Linked DNA regions of Homo sapiens: region 2 is linked to region 1. The links come from fine-mapping of genetic effects on gene expression. A gene starts in region 1. The other region holds a variant in brackets. All regions are shown on one strand. Distances are between the middles of the regions.

Region 1 (11,311 bases):
AATCATGCTCTGGCAACAAACTGACATCATTAAATTCTTATTTGTAAATTCTTTAGGGTATATGGATGTTCTATTTTCATTTGTAAGAACAAAATCTATTTTCTGTTGATTCTTCATTAAGCTCATATGATTGATATATTTTCATCCATTTAGGTTGGTGCAAAAGTAATTGCAGTTTTTGTCATTACTTTTAATTGCAAAAACTGCACTTACTTTTGCACCAACCTAATAATTTATTCCTTTTGTCCTTAGCCATTTTTCTAACACTGCCTTTGGGTGAGTGCTCAGAGAATGCCTCTAAGTTCAAACAAAACAGAAATGATTTCTGGATTGGCTGCTCCTGTGAGCAATCTGTGTCACTGTACTCCCTGGGAAAACATCAAAACCACAATGTTTATTGTTCTTTTTATTATCTCTACTACTGTTTCAATGTAAGAATGCCCTCTGTTAAATTATCTTTTTAATAAATGTATGCAGTTCTATCATTAACATGATTTCAACTGAGAAAAAAAATTTGAATGAAAACTTTTTCTTTGTCCCAAAGCAGACATTACCAGAAACAGCAACGTCATGTCTACTACTGCATAATGTTCCTAATATTAAAGGTATTTAGACTCTATCAACGAAGATTTGCTTAGTCTCTATTGTGAGCCAGGCACTATACTAGTTGCCAGAGACTCAATGTTAAAGGACAGAAGTGAAATCTGTTCTCACAGACCTTTTGGTCTTGGTGCAAAGGTACTTAGGCGAACGAATCTTTATGAACTGGGAAATTCCAATAACAAAAATAGTGGGAAGATTTTTTACAAGAAATAGATTGGAACCAGGTTTTGGAATACCTGTAATGCTGGGCCAATGAATTTGAAGTTTACATCCGAGTTAAGAAAGACCAGGTACCCAAAGAGACCTTTTTCTAAAGATCTCTAATCAGGCCCCGATTAGAACTTTTCAATGATTTGTCATTTCCTCTAAGATAAATCCAACTTCTTTAATAAGGTTAACTAAATCCTGCATAAACACCCCTACTTACCCCTACAATCCAGTAAGTATCTATGAGTGGCACACCCTCATTTTCTATTGTATTCCTTTTAAAAAACATGTGGATTACAACTCACTAATTTGCTTTCACAATCTACTAGTAGGTGCCTGCAGTTAAAGAAAAAAAATGTCACTTTAGTGTACCACATTCTCACACCTCTTGGCCTTTCCACATGTTCTTTTTGCTCAAAACACTTCTGCTCAACCTCACTCTTCCCTTTTACCTAGCTACTTCCTATTCAGCTTAAGATCTCAGCTCTTTAACATCCATGTCCCTGGCCCTCATAGATAAGTTCTCCTTCTTCTGTGGTTCCAAAGCACTCTACACTTAACCAATGCTTATTACGCTTTATCGTAATGGTACTTGTACTAACTGTTTTTCTAGGTTGTAACTCTTAGAGCAAGGACCCATTCTTGTTCACCACTGAATCCCAAAGCCTAGCCCAGTGCCTGTCACGTATTAGACATTCCATAAATATTTAACCAGTACTGGTAAAACAAGGAAATAGACTTGAATAATCTATATATTTAACTACACAATAAAATAATCACTCAAAAGTGTCTAAGAGATTTAGTTATTTCCAAGGAAAATATACAGTCAGTTCATTTTTATAAATGGTGAATTAGTTCCTAGGCTAGCCTACAAAACACTATTTATTTCCCATAACATACTTAACTATGAGAGGATGGCTGTTTACTTCTCTCTGCAATGACAACAGAACTTTCACTCCTCTAAGTAGGAGAAAACAAGATTAAAGGAACACTTTTCTTTCTCTCCACCCCCATCACTAATTCCTCCCACAGGAAAGTGACTTATCTAATTGCTAGGATAGGTATAAAGGTCAACTGTTCAGACAGGCTCCACCCGTGAGCTCTCACTGGCTTTCTTGGACTTGCTGTGCCCTCAAGGAGAGAAAGTTTTCCTTTCCATTCTAACTGCTATAAGATAAGCTCCTTAGGACAGGACTTTCCCTTCCATTTCCTGGTGCAACAGTTTCATCTGGGTAGGTAAATTAAGAAAGAACAGTAAGCATGGGTCTAAGCTCAGTTCTCCAATCCAGCTTTACCGGAAATGAAAATTACACTATTATTTTAATAGTATTTAAATTCTTATCTGGCTTGAGTCTGATCTCAATTTGACTAGAATATGGAGAGAGAAGGGGTGTAACTAGCACACTTGAAAGCTTCAACATGAACAACAGTAATCCCAGTCTGATTTCTGGGTCCTAGGAGAACAGTTAGCATGGAGCAGCAAGGTGGGGCAAAAGGAAAGAGGGATCAAATGAAGGAAAAGGTTTCCACTTTTCCTATTTAGACATTTTTCTTGGGCAAAAATGTCTAAATAAGTCGAATCTGTCTTTATATCCTACAATCTTTCCTTCCAAATTGTTTCATTCTTGCTTTTCTTTTCTCATCTTTCAGATCCCTCATGCTATCTAAAGCTTTCCATTTTTTAACATCCTCACTTTTAGAAGTAGGGCAAACTTTGCCCAATATTCCAAAATGTTCCACGATCTCATAATACTTACATCTACTATCCCTCCTCAAGTCAAAACTCCCACTTCCTTAGTGTAGCTAACCAAGAAGAAAGCAATCTGATTAAATCCATTCACATTAAAATAGAATAACTGACAGTTCTAGTCATTTCCATCTAAATATTTCTGTATTTGTTATTTTTAAGCTAAATAAATCTAACTGCAGTACGTTCAGAGAGAAGAAAAAGTGTCCCTACCCTCATCTACCATAAAGGAGACAGGTCAGCTGTGACCATCACTTCTCAGGGATATCTCCATAGCGATTCCCAATTGTCACTGCCCTCTACTTTCAGTCCTTCCCAATAAGCGCCACTAAAAACCCCAGCGGGCAGAGAAAACATCTGTAGCTGCAGGATATTTGTATATCCATTGGGTAAGTTGGTAACAATCAATATTAGGTTGGATAGTTTATATTTTCAATACGTTTGATAATAATTTCATTAGTTAAAACAAAGTAAAAACACATTTTGGGTTATAAACCCGAAATTACCAGCCTCATTCTTCTAAATAAAGGCAGTGGCATAAAAGGGTTAATTCATATATCCATCATTTTGTAATGTATAGGTTGAAGCAGAGTTAGGCTATGCTTCACATGCTTTTTATCAGTTGCTTATCTATTATTTCCATTTGGAAACCTTTACTTGTATTTTCTATAAAGTTTTGGAAATTGGGAAGTGTACTTTCCAACAATGAGAAAGATTCTTTTCTTGACGAAATTTTACTCAGGCCCCTGAACCTTCTAGGCCCATTTGTGCACTTCCTTGTAAAATGCAGTTTTATCAAAGAACCTCGTCAAGTGAGTTTAGCAACAGCCCCTGACTCTTGGCCCTTGCTTTTTTTTTTTTTTTTTTTTTTTTGAGTTAAGACGAAGTTTTGCTCTGTGCAGTGGCGTGATCTCGGTTCACTGCAACTTCCACCACCTCCTGGGTTCAAGCAATTCTCCTGCCTCAGCCTTCTGAGAAGCTGGGATTACAGGTGCCCGCCAGCACACCAGGCTAATTTTTGTATTTTTAGGAGAGACAGGGTTTCACCATGTTGGCCAGTCTGGTCTCGAACTCCCAACCTCAGGTGATCTGCCCGCCTCAGCCTCCCAAAGTGCTGGGATTACAAGCATGAACCACTGCACCCAGCTGGCCCTCGCTTTCTGATTACCCTCGCTACCTGATTACCCTCACAACCTGATTAGGTTCCTCAGCTTCCACTGTCCCCCAGGTGGTGTCTGATCACTCTGGCCTGTCTTCAGCAAGAATCCTGTTAGGTTGGTTTGGTCTGAATATCCACTACCCCCGGTGTTTCCTCTCAGTACTTTTCTGTCCACTGACCATGACACTGCTCCTTGGCTATAAATTCCCATTTGCCCACACCGTATTCAGAATTGAGCCTAGTCTTCCTCCCAAACTGCAAAATCCCATTCCATGGTCCCTTTACCTATCACAATGGTCCTGAATAGACTTTTTTTTACCACATTTTAACAAGTATCATCGAATAATCTTTTTCTTTAACAACAATCATATTAGATCAGTGGAAAATTGAGTTTGAATTCCTGGGAGGTAACATCAGGTCTTTTTAGTGGTTTTTTTTTTTTTGGCCATGAAAGACCTGATGCTGAATTTGTGTGCGCTCGGAAATTAACCATGAAATAAGCACAGCAGCATTCATTTAGCTGTAAGTGGCTCTTAACTTTAGTGCCATCAAAAATATTTATTTACCACCCACACATGAACATAATTGTAATAAAAACTACACTGCACAAACTTAAGAAAACAAGATTCTCCACTTTACTGAGAAGTTAAACATAAATTTTTGAGTGATTTGTGCTTGCCATTTATTGTTAGTTTGTTCAGCTGGCCACTAATATAAATTTTTTGTAATTAAAGTGATAACTGGGATTTTCAAATTGAGCATAGAATATATGAAAATACCAATTAAGGGTGGTCTCTCTTGACTCCAGTCAGGAATATGCCTTCTGTAGCTTTGCTCAAAATACCAGGGCAGTAAATGTAAAGGGGTCAGTAAGATGTCCAGAATGAACAGGTAGGGTATTCTTAAAGAATGAAGTGGCACTTATTCAACCTTTACCCAAGAATAAGCATTAAGTTTTTCGGTATCAGATTGGTTGGATTTTTTCAAGTCAGTGCCAGTATCCAAACCTATTAACAGAAATTTTTTTCCATAAATGAACAATAAAACTCAATAAAAAGCTAAGCAACCCAGACTGGCCGTGGTGGCTTATGCCTGTAATCCCAGCACTTTGGGAAGCCGAGGTGGGCAGATCACTTGAATTCAGGAGTTGGAGACCAACCTGGCCAACATGGTGAAACCACGTCTCTACTAAAAATACAAAAATTAGCCGGGCATAGTGGTGTGTGCCTGTAGTCCCAGCTACTTGGGAGGCTGAGGCAGGAGAATCGCTTGAACCCCGGAGGTGGAGGTTGCAGTGAGCCAAGATTGTGCCACTGCACTCCAGCCTGGGTGACAGACTGAGAGTCAGTCTCCAAATAAATAAATAAATAAATAAATAAAAATAAAAAGCCAAGCAACCCAATTAAAATATGGGTAAAAGATATGAACATTTTCTCCAAAGAAAATATATGAATGGCCAATAAGCACATGAAAAGATGCTCAGCATCCCCAATCATTAGAGAAATGCAAATCAAAACCACAAAGAGATACCATTCCACACTCACTACGATGGCTATCATAAAAAATAACCAGTAAAAAAGTAACAAGCCTTGGGGAAGATGTGAAGAAATCGGAACCCTCATACACTGCTTAGTGGGAAAGTAAAATGGTACAGCTGCTTTGCTTGGCAGTTCCTCAAAAAGTGAAACACGGAGCAATTGCCCTCCTAGGTATATACCCAAGAGCACTGAAAACACATGTCCACAAAAACGTGTAAACAAATGTGCATAGCAGCATTACACACAATGGCCAAAAACTGGAAACAACCCAAATGTACATCAACTGATGAATAAACAAATGTGGTACACTGATACAACAATATTAATATGCTATAAAAAGTAAAGTACTGATACATACTACATGAGTGAAACTTGAAAACATTACAGTATGTCTTTCGACGCCAGACACAAAAAGCCACATATTGTACGCTTCCATTTATATGAGATTTCCACAACAGGCAAACCCATATAAACAGAAAGTAGATTAGTGGTGGCTAGTGGGGTGGGGTCAAGGGGAAATGAGGAGTGATTACTAAGAGAGACAGGGTTTCTTTTGGGGATGATGATCTGGATAGTGGTCATATTTGGAAAACTCTGTGAATATATTAAAAGCCACACTTTAGAAGAATGAGTTTTATGGCATGTGATGTATATCTCAATTTAAAAATTGTCACTACAAAAAAAAGATGACATATATACGTAATATACACATCAATGTATATCGGTAACACATAGATATGTGTCATCTCTCTCTGTAAATGAGCATTTGGGCTTTTAAATTTGAGATATGCTCCGTGTATATAAAGAGAAGAATGAAAGAAAAGGGTGACGGGGCACTCGCGGAGCCCTGAACAGGCATCTGGGGTGTGCCCGAGCCAGCCTCGCAGCATCTCCATCCCAGCTCACCTTCAGCCATCACTCATACACCACCCGCCGCCTGTCCCTGCCTTGGGCGCCCGGGACCGCTTGTCCGCGGTGGCCGCGGAACAGCTTCCCTCAGCCCGAGGTGGGGCAGGCGCGGGGGCCTGGGCTCGGGCGCTGCCCGGCGGCCCGGAGAGGCGTCCGCAGGGGGCACGGCTGCTCGGGCGGGGCCGCTCCCTCTGCTCCCCGCGCCCCCGCCGCCGGGTCCCGAGCCCAGGCCTCTCGGCCCCACCTCCCTCCCGCACCTGATGCGCCCGAACGCGGCGCCGCGGCCGAAGCCGAGACTTCCCCTCCATGGTCACCTGTTCCGGAGCGCGGCGGCGGCAGCGGCCGGTGTGAGAAGGGTCCCCGTCTCCTCAGACCAGACCGAGACACCAGGGGCGGGGGATGGAAGGGGCATTCACCTGGTGCCCGGCACCGGTGGTGGCGGGGAGGACAGCGGCTCCCAGCCCACAGCTCCTTCCTGCTCCCGCGCCTCCTCGCGCGGCTGCGGCCCCAAGCTGACAGCCCGGCCGTCGGCGCCCGCGGCCCCCTGACTCCCCGCCGCCCCGCCCCCGCGCGGCAGCCCCGCGCAAGCGCAGCCGCGCCGCCGCCGGGGAAGCCCGGGCCTTGGTGATGTGGCCCGCGGGGCGGCGACCCGGAGCGACAGCACCGCCCCGCCCGGACCCCGGCCGCGCCCTGGCAGACAGCTGTCGGGAACGGGGGCGCTGGATGACGGCAAGGGGGCAGTTTTCTGGGGAGCCTGCCCAGGAGAGAAGGGCTGTGGCCTCCTTCGGCATCCCTCTTCCCCACCAGCCCACGCACGCCCACTTCACCGCCTGCTCCAAGGTCCGAACCCCCGAATCCATGACTCATGATTTCTCTTCTCAGACCAGCGGCCTCTTTTTGGCTGAGGTCATGTTTCTTGCAGACTGGAGTTAAAACCGAACCACGTGTCTTTCGGCCCAGCAGCGCATAGTGTGGGCGGTGCAGGAGCCGAGACGGGCAGGAACCACCGCAGGAGGGGGTGAGGTTTAGGGCAGCCCCATAGCACCCTCCCCGTGCCAGGCAGGTGTAGGCGCCAAGCGCATGGGGCGCTGAAGAGTTGGCTGGGGTGCCAGGCTTTTCAAGTTTCCCCACACTTGCTTTTAAACCTAGATCAAACTGATCCAAAGTCTGCATGTAAATCCGAGAGCTCATTTATTTTATTTACAAAACTATTGAGCATCTACTGTGTATGATTCAGGGAATGAGACACACCCCAGGGATACTCCAGTGAACAAAAGAAAGGTGTTGGTCCGAAGACAGTTATTTTAAAAATTACACAGCTAATGCCATAATGCCAGGATTGGTGGCTCATGCGTGTAACCTCAACACTTCGGGAGGACCAGGCGAGAGGATCGCTTGAGGCCAGGAATTTGAGACCAGCCTGGGCAAACACAGCGAGACCTGGAGTGGCTAGGAGACTGAGGTGGGAGGATCGCCTGAGCCCAGGAGTTCAAGGCTGCAGCGGGCTATGATCGCATCACTGCACTCCAGTCTGGGCCACAAAATGAGACCTTGTCTCTAAAACAACAACTCAAAATTACACAGCTAATGATACTCTTTTCCTCAAATCAAAGCTTCTACCAATTCCAAGCCACACCAGTGATTTAGTAGCAGCTTTTCTGGTGCTGAAGGACACCAGCATACATTTATCCATGTTCTTTTTTTTTTTCCTTATGCTTTGCGATCAGACTTTGAGCTTTAACCTTAACCTTCAGGGTGAAGGGTGCTTCGGTATCACTCTTGGCCATCTGCAGTCATGCTTTTTATAATGACTCATCCTGGTGTTCCTCACCACCTAAAAATGAAAGTATAATTGCAAGGAATATGGAAAAGCAGTGTTTTGACTGCATTTCCAGCTGGTTTTTGTTCTGGTTGTTTTTTGAATTACAGATCATTAGAAAGTAGCTGCTCTTGAAAGTTTGGCAGAAGTTCCACCCAATATGTGTTCCTCCCCTGAGTGTGTAGTCTTTCAAGATTTCTACACAAAGCATATACAGAAGCCAGCCTGTCTTGGTTTTGAAAATTCTTCCACCATTTTTTTCTGAGAGAGCTGGTGGTTTCTACCGTCCTTCAGAGCATTACATGGCATGTGGCAGGCAACCTTCTACTTACATTCTTCATTCAGTACCGCAAAGTAGTGTGTACTTTGGAGATATGTTAAGCTTCAAGTTGGAATCCAAATTTAAATCAAATTTCAGCCCTGAAAATAACTCACATTGGAATCGGGCGAGGAAATGCCCCCTTGTAAAAAACTGGGTCCTAATGGGTGCAGACAACAACAATCCCATTTCTACTTCATCTCCCGTCTGACAGCTGGCAACTTCAAATGTGAAGCAAGTGGCTTGGACTTGAGGCTGTGTGGTGATGCTGTTGTGATTGCTGGAAAAAAGCCTGAGAGTTATGAGAGTGTATAACAAAGGAGCGTGTCTGTGCTAGGGGGTAAGAAAGATCTCCTGGAGGAAGTGACATTTAATCTCAGCCTTGAAGAATAAGGAGGAGTTAGGGCAGGCAACATAGAGAAGGGGGTGGGGTGGGCAGTGCATTTAGCTGTGGAAACTGCAGGTTTGAAGGCCCTTTGGTAGGAAGAGGCTCTGTCTGTGAAGGCTTTGGGAAAAGGCCACTGTGCTTAGACTGAGAGAGCTACCTGGGAGGGAGAGGTGGGCGGGCCCTTGAGGGTCAGGTTAAGGACTTTGGATTTAATCCTAAAGACAAAAGAAGCCAATGAAGAGTTGAAAAGGTCCTATCTGGACATGAAAAATTGCATTTGTAAAAGATGATCCTGGATGCAGTGGCTCACACCTGTAATCCCAGCACATTGGGAGGCTGAGGTGGGAGGATCACTAGAGGCCAGGAGTTTGAGACCAGCCTGGGCAACATTGCAAGACCCCCATCTCTACAAAAATAAAATAAAATTAGCCAGGCTTGGTGGCACGCACCTGACTGAGCCCAGGAGCTCGAGGCTGCAGTGAGCTATGATCGTGCCTCTGCATTCCAGCTTGGGCAGCAGAGTGTGAGACATTGTCTCTTAAAAAAAAAAAAAAAAAAAAAAAAAAGAGATTATTCCGGCTGCAGAGTGGAGAATTAATAAGAAGGGTGCAACAGAGGATGTGTGACAACCAGTTTGCAGGCAATGGAGATTAGGAGATGATGGTGGATTGAAGATATAGGTCAGGGTTAGAACTGTAAGGATTTGATCAAATGCATGGAAGGTAAAGGCGAAAAAGTGTCAAAAAATGACTCCCAAGTTTCTAATTTGAGTTTATGCCATTTCCTGATTTGGGAAATGTGGAGGAGGAGATCAGAAGGGGACAATTTTGAGTTGCTTTATATATGTTGAGTTTGATACCCCTATGAGACATTCAAATGAAGATACTGACTCTATGTTTGAAAAACTGCAACTCAGAGTAGAGATCTGGATTGAGGTGAATCAAAACTAAATTTTAGGAGAGCACATAATATGAACTGTTCATAAGATTTAACCTCTAAACTTCAGAGAAAACCTGAGCAGGCCAGGTGTGGTGGCTCATGCCTGTAATCGAGCACTTTGGGAAGCTGAGTCAGGTGGATCACTCGAGGTCAGGAGTTGGAGATCAGCCTGGCCAACATGGTGAAACCCTATCTCTACTAAAAATACAAAAATTAGCCAGGTGTGGTGGCGTGAACCTGTAGTCTCGGCTACTCAGGAGGCTGAGGTATGAGAATCACTTGAACCTGGGAGGTGGAGGTTGCAGTGAGCCAAGATTGCGCCACTGCACTCCAGCCTGGGCATCAGAGCTAGCCTCCATCTCAAAAACAAAAACAAAAACCTGAGCAGAAGCAAAGGGAATCTAATATTTACTATGTGTGAGACACTTCGCACAGATGATTTTCTTTAATCTTGACACTCTATAAAATGATGTTATAATCCCATTTTACATACGAGGAAACTGAGGGTTAAATCCTTGCTCAAAGTTACTCAAATTCCCAAGACCTACCTCAGACCCATTAAATAAGAATCTCTATGGATATTTCTGGTGATCACTGAGGCTCAAGAACCACCATGTGGCCTACTTAAAAGTGGTCCCACAAACCATATAAATGCCCACAAAGAAAAAGAACTAGAGAAAAACCATCATTCAGGGGACATGCAGCCCATGCAGCCAATGTTCCAGACACATGTGCTAGTTTCTGCCCCTACCCCCATTATCAGTGCCCTTCCTGGGAATCTCTGCAATACTCATTTGTTCATTCATTCAACAGGTAGCTATTGTGGGCCTCTTTTGTGCCAAATATAAATCATCATTCATTCATTTATAAATATTTTTTGAGCACTTAGCTAAATGCCACATTTTGTCCTATGCTCTGGGAATACAGTATTGAACAACATAAAGGAATGCCTGCCTTACAGAGTTCATGTTCAAATGGGGAAAGAAAATAAACAACTAATAAACAAATAAGCAAATATATATATCTAGGTATATGGTGATAACTACTATGAAAAGAAATAGAGTTAAAGAGTTAGAGAGTTTGGGGGCGGGGTGGGGAAGGTGTGGAGAGGAGCGGGGACTGTTTTATATAAACTAATCCAGGGAGACCTTGATGGCTTGAACAAAAAGGAGTGAGGGAACAGTAATAATACCTGGGGAAAGTACAGCAAGCACAAAGGTCCTAAGACAGGAGTGTGTATGTTGTGTTCAGGAGACAGCAAGGAGTCTCCTGTGTCTGTAGTGAAGTAATCAAGTGGTTGAGATGAAGCAAAATTAAATTTGCAGGCCAGGTGCTGTGGCTCACGCCAGTAATCCCAACACATTAGGAGGCTGAGGTGGGCGGATCACTTGAGGTCAGGAATTCGAGACCAGCCTGGCCAACATGGTGAAACCCCGTCTTTACCAAAAATACAAAAATTAGCCGAGCCTGGTGGTGCATGCCTGTAGTCCCAGTTACTCAGGAGGCATGAGAATCACTTGAGCCCGGGAGGTGGAAGTTGCAGTGAGCCAAGATTGCACCACTGCTCTCCAGCCTGGGCAACAGAGTGAGACTCCAGGGAAAAAAAAGAAAAAATTAGATTTGCAGATGCAGTCAGAGAAGTGGCTAGGGGCAGGGCTTGCAGGCCATTGGCTTTGACTCTGA
Region 2 (8,000 bases), 210 kb before region 1:
TTCCCAGTTCTTGCCTCACTTTTCTTTAATGAGCTCTGAAATCAGGCCAGCCCAGGGGGACCTATCCCACGTTCCCTATTCTGGATAATAAAATGGGTCACTCACTTCTTTTTAGTTTTATAATTTCCATTGATCATAAATCTACATGTGTTGTCAAAATACTCCTCTGAGGTTGATGGAAGGTAGCAAAGATGGTTTTTCTATTTCATAGGAATGTTATGGCACCACACAGATGACACTCCCTGCCCTCTCACTCTGCCCTGGAATCCATCCCTGCACCTCCAACAAGGGCTGCTGGGTGGATAGAAGGAGAAAATCCCTCTTTTTGCTCTGCTGTCCAGCAGCACAACAAAAAGGCATATTTGGGTTCCAGTCTTTGCTCTGCTGCTTTCTGGGAGTGGGTGGATGAGCTCTCATCTCTGGGCCTCAGTTTTGCCATCTGAAAATCAGAGGGTGGTATCAGATAATCACAAAGGTATTTTGTAACTCTGAAGTTCTGGGTTCTAAGGACTCTGAGATGCAAAATTATTTGAAAGCTCTACAGGCAGAAGAATATTAATACCTCTGATGTCATGCAATTGAGGGTGTCTTATTCACCTCTGGGCCCCGGGTCTGTGTCCCTGCCATTGTGTGTGACTCTGTTCCTGGATATCTGTATCTTCATGTCCTCGGCCATGGCCTAAGAAGCCGCAGAGATGTCTGACTTCCTCAGTGAACAGCAGATGGATGGATTTAGACGTGCTTGTCCCTCTAGCACTCCACGATGGTCTTCCTGTTCCACTTTCACTATGATTGAGAATGGGCCGTCCTTCTTGAAAGAGGAAAAAGGCAGTGAAGTGATAAACAAAATCTTCTTAGTACTCTGCAAAGATGTTCATGTGTTGCCACAAAGCTAATCACCCTTTTCTGAATTCTGCAAGTATTGGGCACCAAGTGCCTGGGACACTGAGATACCTGGGCCTTATCCCAGCTGCCCTGGAGGGAGGGCATGAGTTGAGCTCACATTGTTCATAGTGACATTAACTATGATCAGGATGGAGCAGGTTGAGGCAAAGGGGTGAAGGTAAAGGTGGTGGAAATGGCTCCGTTGGGGCCCCAGGCTTGGTGGTGGTGGTTACTGGGGAGAGAACGAGGGTGTCTTCCAGGCAGGGGTAGGAGGAGGGCTTTGGAGCCCCATCTGCAGAACTAGCTCCACCTCTCTCTTGGGGGAGGACCAGCCTTCCTCTCACTGGAAGCATGCAACATGCAGAAACGAAAGGCCCAGAGCATGGCTCATGCGTGCCTTTGGAACAATGGAGAAATCGGGTATTGTTAAAACATGCTGCTTGACTAAGAAATAAATGGACCTCTTTGGGTGCCTCTCAATTCATAGTTCAGTTACTGTGAAATTCCATGAATCCTTTACAGTCTGTTAATACATATTAATAGCTAATCTTGATATTGCCAGAAAATTGCTCTTCAGACCTCCAATTTGCTTAACAGCTGCCAATCTAAGTTGCCGCCAATTGCCTCTATCGGTCTTCTGTGTCAGTGAGATATTAAGTCGCCATGAGCCAGGCATTTTGCACAGATGACAAATGTGTTTGGCGTTCACTGCAGAACCCGCTCATGTAAAAGCGACGCTCAATCATCAGTTCTCAAAGTGAAACAGAGACCACCAGCCTCAGAATTGGCCTGATAGAATCATCACGGGGCAGCGATCAAGAGCAGGTTCCCAGGACAGCCCGACCCACTGAACCAGAATTACTCAGGGTGGTGTCTGGGAACCCGCATTGCATCAGATTCCCGCTGTGATTCTTACATACACTGAACATTGAGAAATGCTGTCAGGTGAAAGGCAAAGCAACATTCCTGCTATCCTGCCCCCGGCACTTGGGAAACCACCCTCTGTAAGGTTTACAGTAGCTACTTCCTGAGTGCCTACTATGTGCCAGGTACCATGCTATGTGCTTTCCTTGTGGGCTCTCATCTAATCCTCAAAATGACCCTGAGAAGTAGACTTTATTGTTGTCCCCATTTTGCAGATGAGGAAACTAAGGCCTGAAGGGCTCAAGTGATTAGGCCAAAATAGAAGTAGAATATTCTGGTCAGTCTGGGAAGAGAACCAATGAAGCCAACTGGTTCAAAGAAGGGAGAGGCCAGGAGGAGATCCTGAAGGGAGGCAAGCCCCTGCCTCCCAAGAGCATCACCCTCTGGGAGGCCCATCGTGGTAGGGGAGGTTGACGGCCTCCCTGGCTAGGGGAGGGGTAAGCCACCCGGGACTGCTCAGTGGACCCATGCTCCTCCTCCCCTACTCCTGCCAGCAGCGACTTCCGAGGACCCCAAAGCACTAGCCAGCAGGTGCTCAGCCTGCCTGCCCTTACTTCTGATTTCCCAAGCAGTGTGGGAGCTGCATCCCTTCCTCACCGTTGTTCCTGTTCCGGGCCACCATTCATCGGAAAGCAGGCCAGCTTGGCAGCAGCCCCATTCCTATTCCTGCCCCCCTCCGGCACCCTGCCCAGGCCTCCGGAAGCCCAAACAGCTGATCTGAGATGTCAATAAGGCCCTTCCAGCTGCACCTGGCCTGGCTGAAAGGGAGCCCCGGGGGTACCACACAGCCTCAGACCAAGTCCTTCCTGGGCAGCCCTTGGCGCCCTCCCCCTCCAGCGTGATTTGATTCCCCTCCTCTTGTTTCTTGGCCTCACCAGACGGGTGGAAAGTGCCAGCGTCCCTCCCTCATCAAAAGCTGTTGCATTTCTACCCAGGGCTGAGAGTCCCCGCTCTTCTCTCTTGGCCTCCAGCCCCAGAGCTGATGCTAAGCTCCTGTGTGGCAGCCACAGGCTCTAAGCCAGAAATCTCCACCAGAAGATGAGGTGGGGGCTGCGGGTTTAGGCACAGGAAGCCCACGAGGCCTCATTGGCCGTCTTGTGACCCGAACAATCCCTGCTGTCCCAAAGTCATTCATGCATTCAACAAAGCTTTCAGTGTCCACCGTATGTGAAGCACTGGGAATACAACAGTGAACAAAAATTAGTGAAAACTACCTGCCATCTCAGAGTTAACGTTCAAGAAGGGAGAGACCAGCAAAATAAGTAAATTGAGATAAACTAAGGAGATAAGTACTACAAAGAAAAGGGAAGCAGGGAAGGGGATGGGAGAGCTGAGGTTCCAGAGGTGTCTCTTAATATCCACCACTGAGTGTGAGCCTTCCTAACTGCACCCAGGGACTCCCACAGTCTGGCTGGTTCCGCCTTGTCTTTCTCTTGCAGTTGCCCACAGGTTCCACTAAGTGAGCAGGGGCAGCTGGGCTGGAGGCAGTGGGGGCTGAGAGCAGCCAGAGGAAGGCACCCCCTTACTATCCTCAAACACCTGGGGGAGGCACCAACCCTACAGGGATGGTTCGGCTCACACCACTAAAATGATTGTAGCTAACATTTAAGAATACAGAGATATCACATGAAACCTAATATTCTGACTTCTCTTTTTTTAATTTATATTTTTCTAACTTTTAAGTTCAGGGGCACATATGCAGGTTTGTTACATAGGTGAACTTGGGTCATGGGGGTCTGTTGTACAGATTCTTTCATCACCCAAGTATTAAACCCAGTACCCATTAGTTGTTTTTCCTGATCTTCTCCCTCCTCCCACCTTCCACCCTCCAAAAGGCCCCACTGAGTGTTCCCCTCTGTGTCCATGTGTTCTCATCATTTAGCTCCCACTTATAAGTGAGAACATGTGGCATTTGGTTTTCTGTTCTGCATTCGTTTGCTAAGGATTATGGCCTCCAGCTCCATCCATGTCCCAGCAGAGGACATGATCTCTCTTTTTTTATGGCTGCATAGTACTCCATGGTATATATGTACCACATTTTCTTTATCCAGACTATTATTGGGCATTTAGGTTGATTCCATGTCTTTGCTATTGTAAACAGTGCTGCAGTGAACACATGTGTGCATGTGTCTTTATAATAGAATGATTTATATTCCTTTGGGTATATACCCAGTAATGGGATTGCTGAGTCAAATGGTATTTCTGTCTTTAGGTCTTTGAGGAATTGACACACTGTCTTCCACAATGGTTGAACTAATTTACACTCCCACCAACAGTGTATAAGTGTTCCTTTTTCTCCGCAACCTTGCCAGCATCTGTTATTTTGACTTTTTAGTAATAGCCATTCTGACTGGTGTGAGATGGTATCTCATTGTGGGTTTGATTTGCATTTCTCTAATGATCAGTGATGCGGAACTTTTTTTTGTATGATTGTTGGCCTCATGTATGTCTTCTTTTGAAAACTGTCTGTTCACATCCTCTGCCCACTTTTTTATGGGGTTGTTTTTTTCTTGTAAATTTGTTTAAGTTCCTTATAGATGCTGGATATTAGACCTTTGTCGGATGCATAGTTCGTAAAAATTTCCTCCCGTTCTGTTATTGGTTGTCTGTTTACTCTGTTGATAGTTTCTTTTGCTGTGCAGAAGCCCTTTAGTTACATTAGATCCCACTTGTCAGTTTTTGCTTTTGTTGCAATTGCTTTCGGTATCTTCATCATGAAGTCTTTTCCCGTGTGTATGTCCTGAGTGGGATCGCCTAGGTTGTCTTCTAGGGTTTTTATAGTTTTGGGTTTCACATACAAGTCTTTAATCCATCTTGAGTTAATTTATGTCTGTGGTGTAAGGAAGGGATTCAGTTTTAATCTTCTGCATAGGGACAGCCAGTTATCCCAGCAT[CATTTATTTATTTATTT/C]ATTTATTTATTTATTTATTTATTTATTTTTTGAGACAGAGTCTTGCTCTCTTGCCCAGGCTGGAGTGCAATGGCATGATCTCGGCTCACTGCAACCTCCGCCTCCCAGGTTCAAGCAATTCTCCTGCCTCAGCCTCCCAAGTAGCTAGGATTACAGGTGCCCACCATCATGCCTGGGTAATTTTTGTATTTTTAGTAAAGACCGGGTTTCGCCGTGTTGGCCAGGCTGTTCTCGAACTCCTGACCTCAAGTGATCTGCCTGCCTCAGCCTCCCAAAGTGCTGGGATTACAGGCATAAGCCACCACGCCCGGCCCCTAGCACCATTTATTGAATAGGGAATCCTTTCCTCATTGTTTGTTTTTGTCAGGTTTGCTGAAGATCAGATAGTTGTAGGTGTGTGGTCCTATTTCTGGGTTCTCTATTCTGTTCCATTGGTCTATGTGTCTGTTTTTGTTCCAGTACCATGCCGTTTCGGTTACTATAGCCCTGTAGAATAGCAAGTAGGGTAGCTGATGCCTCCAGCTTTGTTCTTTTTGCTTAGGATTCCCTTGGCTATTCGGGCTCTTTTTTGGTTCCATATGAATTATAGAATACTTTTGTCTAGTACTGTGAAAAATGTCAGTGGTAGTTTAATAGGAATAGCATTGAATATATAAATTGCTTTAGGCAGTAGGGCCATTTTAATGATATTGATTCTTCCTATCCATGAGCATGGAATATTTTTCCATTTGTTTGTGTCATCTCTGATTTTTTTGTGCAGTGGCTTATAGTTCTCATCATAGAGATCTTTCACCTCCCTGGTTAGCTGTATCCCTAGGTATTTTATTCTTTTTGTGGCCATTGTGAATGGGAGTTCATTCCTGATTTGGCTCTTGACTTGACTATTGTTGGTGTATGAGAGTGCTAGTGATTTTTGTACACTGATTTTGTATCCTGAGACTTTGCTGAAGTTGTTTATCAGCTTAAGAAGCTTTTGGGCTCAGACAACAGGGTTTTCTAGATGTAGGATCATCTCATCTGCAAACAGGGGTAGTTTGACTTCCTTTCTTCCTACTCAAATGTCCTTTATCTCCTTCTCTTGCCTGATCACCCTGGCCAGAAATTCCAATACTATGTTTAATAGGAGTGGTGAGAGAGGTCATCCTTGTCTTGTGCTGGTTTTCAAGGGGAATGCTTCCAGCTTTTGCCCGTTTAGTATGATGTTGGCTCTGGGTTTGAATTCTGACTTCTCTTGAGAAATTGAAACATCTCGAAAGACCAGGTCCTCAATTCCCTAATGACGGTATCAGTGAGATCTATGTGGCATCAGCCACCTTCAGTGGCCCAGTGGACGCTGACTGGGTTCATTCCCATTCAAGGTGCCGAGGCCATTCATTTCTATTTCCTGATGGTTCTGGAGAGCCTTTGAGTTTGTGACTCTAACCCAGGTCACCCAATATAAACCCTGCCTACAAAAGAAGTACTTTAACTACACTAGGGTGAAACAACCCTTTCTCATTGCTCAGCAAATCCTGGGCTTTCCTTTCTGCTCATTTTTTTCTGCCTATAAAGATCCCAAGGTTAAAATGGAGCTCAGAACTATCACCCACCTGTGCCAGTGTCAGCTGAGGCTGGCTTGGGGGCTGATCCAGAGGCCAACACCAGGCCCTCCATCACTATCACCCAGAGCCTCCTACCTCACCTTCAGGGCTCAAAATGCTTTCCAGCCACGGTGCATTTTCCTTCTTCCTTTTGCCTTGGAAAGGAAGGCAAAGCTTCTGCAGAGATTCAGTTGTTGTTCCTTGCAGTCAAACAGGTGCTTCCCTAGTGACAAGTTACAATCCAGAGAAACCAATTTCCCTGACAACGTTAATGTCAGTTAACATGAAGCCACTTCTTTCCTAAACCCTTTACGTTTTGTACCAGGTCCAGACCAGATCGTTTCTTTAAAGGCCCAATATTTTTCTCCTTTCTTTTCTAAACCTAAGAGGTTTTGAGCATTATGTAATTCTTAGTGCTTCCCCTAAAATGCACCCAAAGATGTCTGAGACCTGTGACCTTCTAGACCTTTGACCCCTGGCTCTACTGAATGAAAAGTCCCCTATCTTAAACCTGAGGACCAGGAAGGTGAAACTGGCCCAAGATCATATGCCGGTCACCACTCCAGTCCAGTTCTTTGCTTTAGCTTATAGCTCCTGGCATTGGAGCCCCTGAAATAGTGGAGTCCCACCCGGGCAGCCTCAGATTTCCAGGAGCAATTAAATATAACAGATCTCTGGGGTGGGACTCAGTCCTCAGTGTTTAAAGCTCTCCTATGATCCCAGTGAGCTGCTAGGGTTGAGACCCACGCCTCCAGCGGCTGCCCGGGAGCCGATAACTCCCGGGTGGGTCTCCAGACCCCAGGAGGCTGCACCATGCAGGGTCTCAGACCACAGTCTGCCTGGACTCGAACCCCAGACCCGGTTCCTAGCTCCCTGAGCTTGAGCAAGTTAATTATTCTCCCTGTGCCTGTTTCCTTATCCACAAGTTGAAAATACTAATGATACCTACCTCATAGAGTGTGAAGATCAACAGTAGCTGGTACATAGTAAGTGCTCAATATATGGTAGCTAGTATAAATATGTGACCCTTTTTTTGCTGTGGATGTGGTGTCTTCGGTGATTCCTCATGACTAGCCCTTTTCATGAGAGTTTAGTAATTCCTCTGCCAGAAAGAAACGTCATATAATCAGAGCAAATCAGCTCATCAGGTGCTCCTCCCCCTCCCCCAATTCTGAAACAGAAAGATGATGGCAGCACAACTGACATGCTGAGAGGGGTTTTGCATTCAGATTTTTAAGTGGAGAAACTGAGGCTAGACCCAAGCTAACAGTTGTTAAAGGCAGATTCAGAAAACCCTCAGTCACTTAATGCTTCCAAATGTACCTGTTTCTCTGGGTCTATTTGCCTGCATGTCCCCCGACTCTGCCCACCCCGAGACAGTCAAAGGGGGCGACCTCTCTTCCTCCTGTTTGGGTTCTTGTGTCTGAGGGAAATTGCAAACGCTGCAGTAATGTTTTAATTTAAGGGAAACCAGCTCTTCCTTTTAAGATGAAACGTAGTAAAATTTTAAAGACTTTTTCAAACAGTCCCTAAATTTGTTACTTAAACTAATTATGGTTGCCTTTTATAAATGTCCAAATTAAAAATAGACATCTAAACGAGAATGCAGGACACAGCCCAGAGCCCGGAGCCATGTTCACGGTTTCCTAGAATCAGCCCTCCTCTGACCTAATTTATACTTTTGAGAGATCAAAGCGAGA

Direction of the effects. Alleles are on the strand shown, and positions count from the first base shown. SD is a standard deviation of normalised expression in the study named.
For the expression in monocytes of the gene that starts at base 6,680 in region 1, CATTTATTTATTTATTT is the high allele of the variant in region 2 and C is the other (moderate effect, 0.53 SD a copy in BLUEPRINT).

What was found.
Region 2: its variant is fine-mapped to the expression of SLC41A2 in monocytes (BLUEPRINT, PIP 0.95).

Annotation. Positions count from the first base shown.
Region 1 is chr12:104,951,611-104,962,921 of GRCh38, forward strand. It overlaps SLC41A2 (solute carrier family 41 member 2), which reads right to left and starts at 6,680. Exons shown (of 11, transcript NM_001352171.3): 1 at 6,478-6,680. RefSeq lists silencers at 6,069-6,398, 6,589-6,858.
Region 2 is chr12:104,740,141-104,748,140 of GRCh38, forward strand. All of the region lies in intron 2 of CHST11 (carbohydrate sulfotransferase 11), which reads left to right. Among named protein-coding and RNA genes, the nearest start is that of MIR3922, 150 kb to the left of the region's middle. RefSeq lists enhancers at 853-902, 2,609-3,230. The variant CATTTATTTATTTATTT/C (reference allele first, on the strand shown) is at 4,704.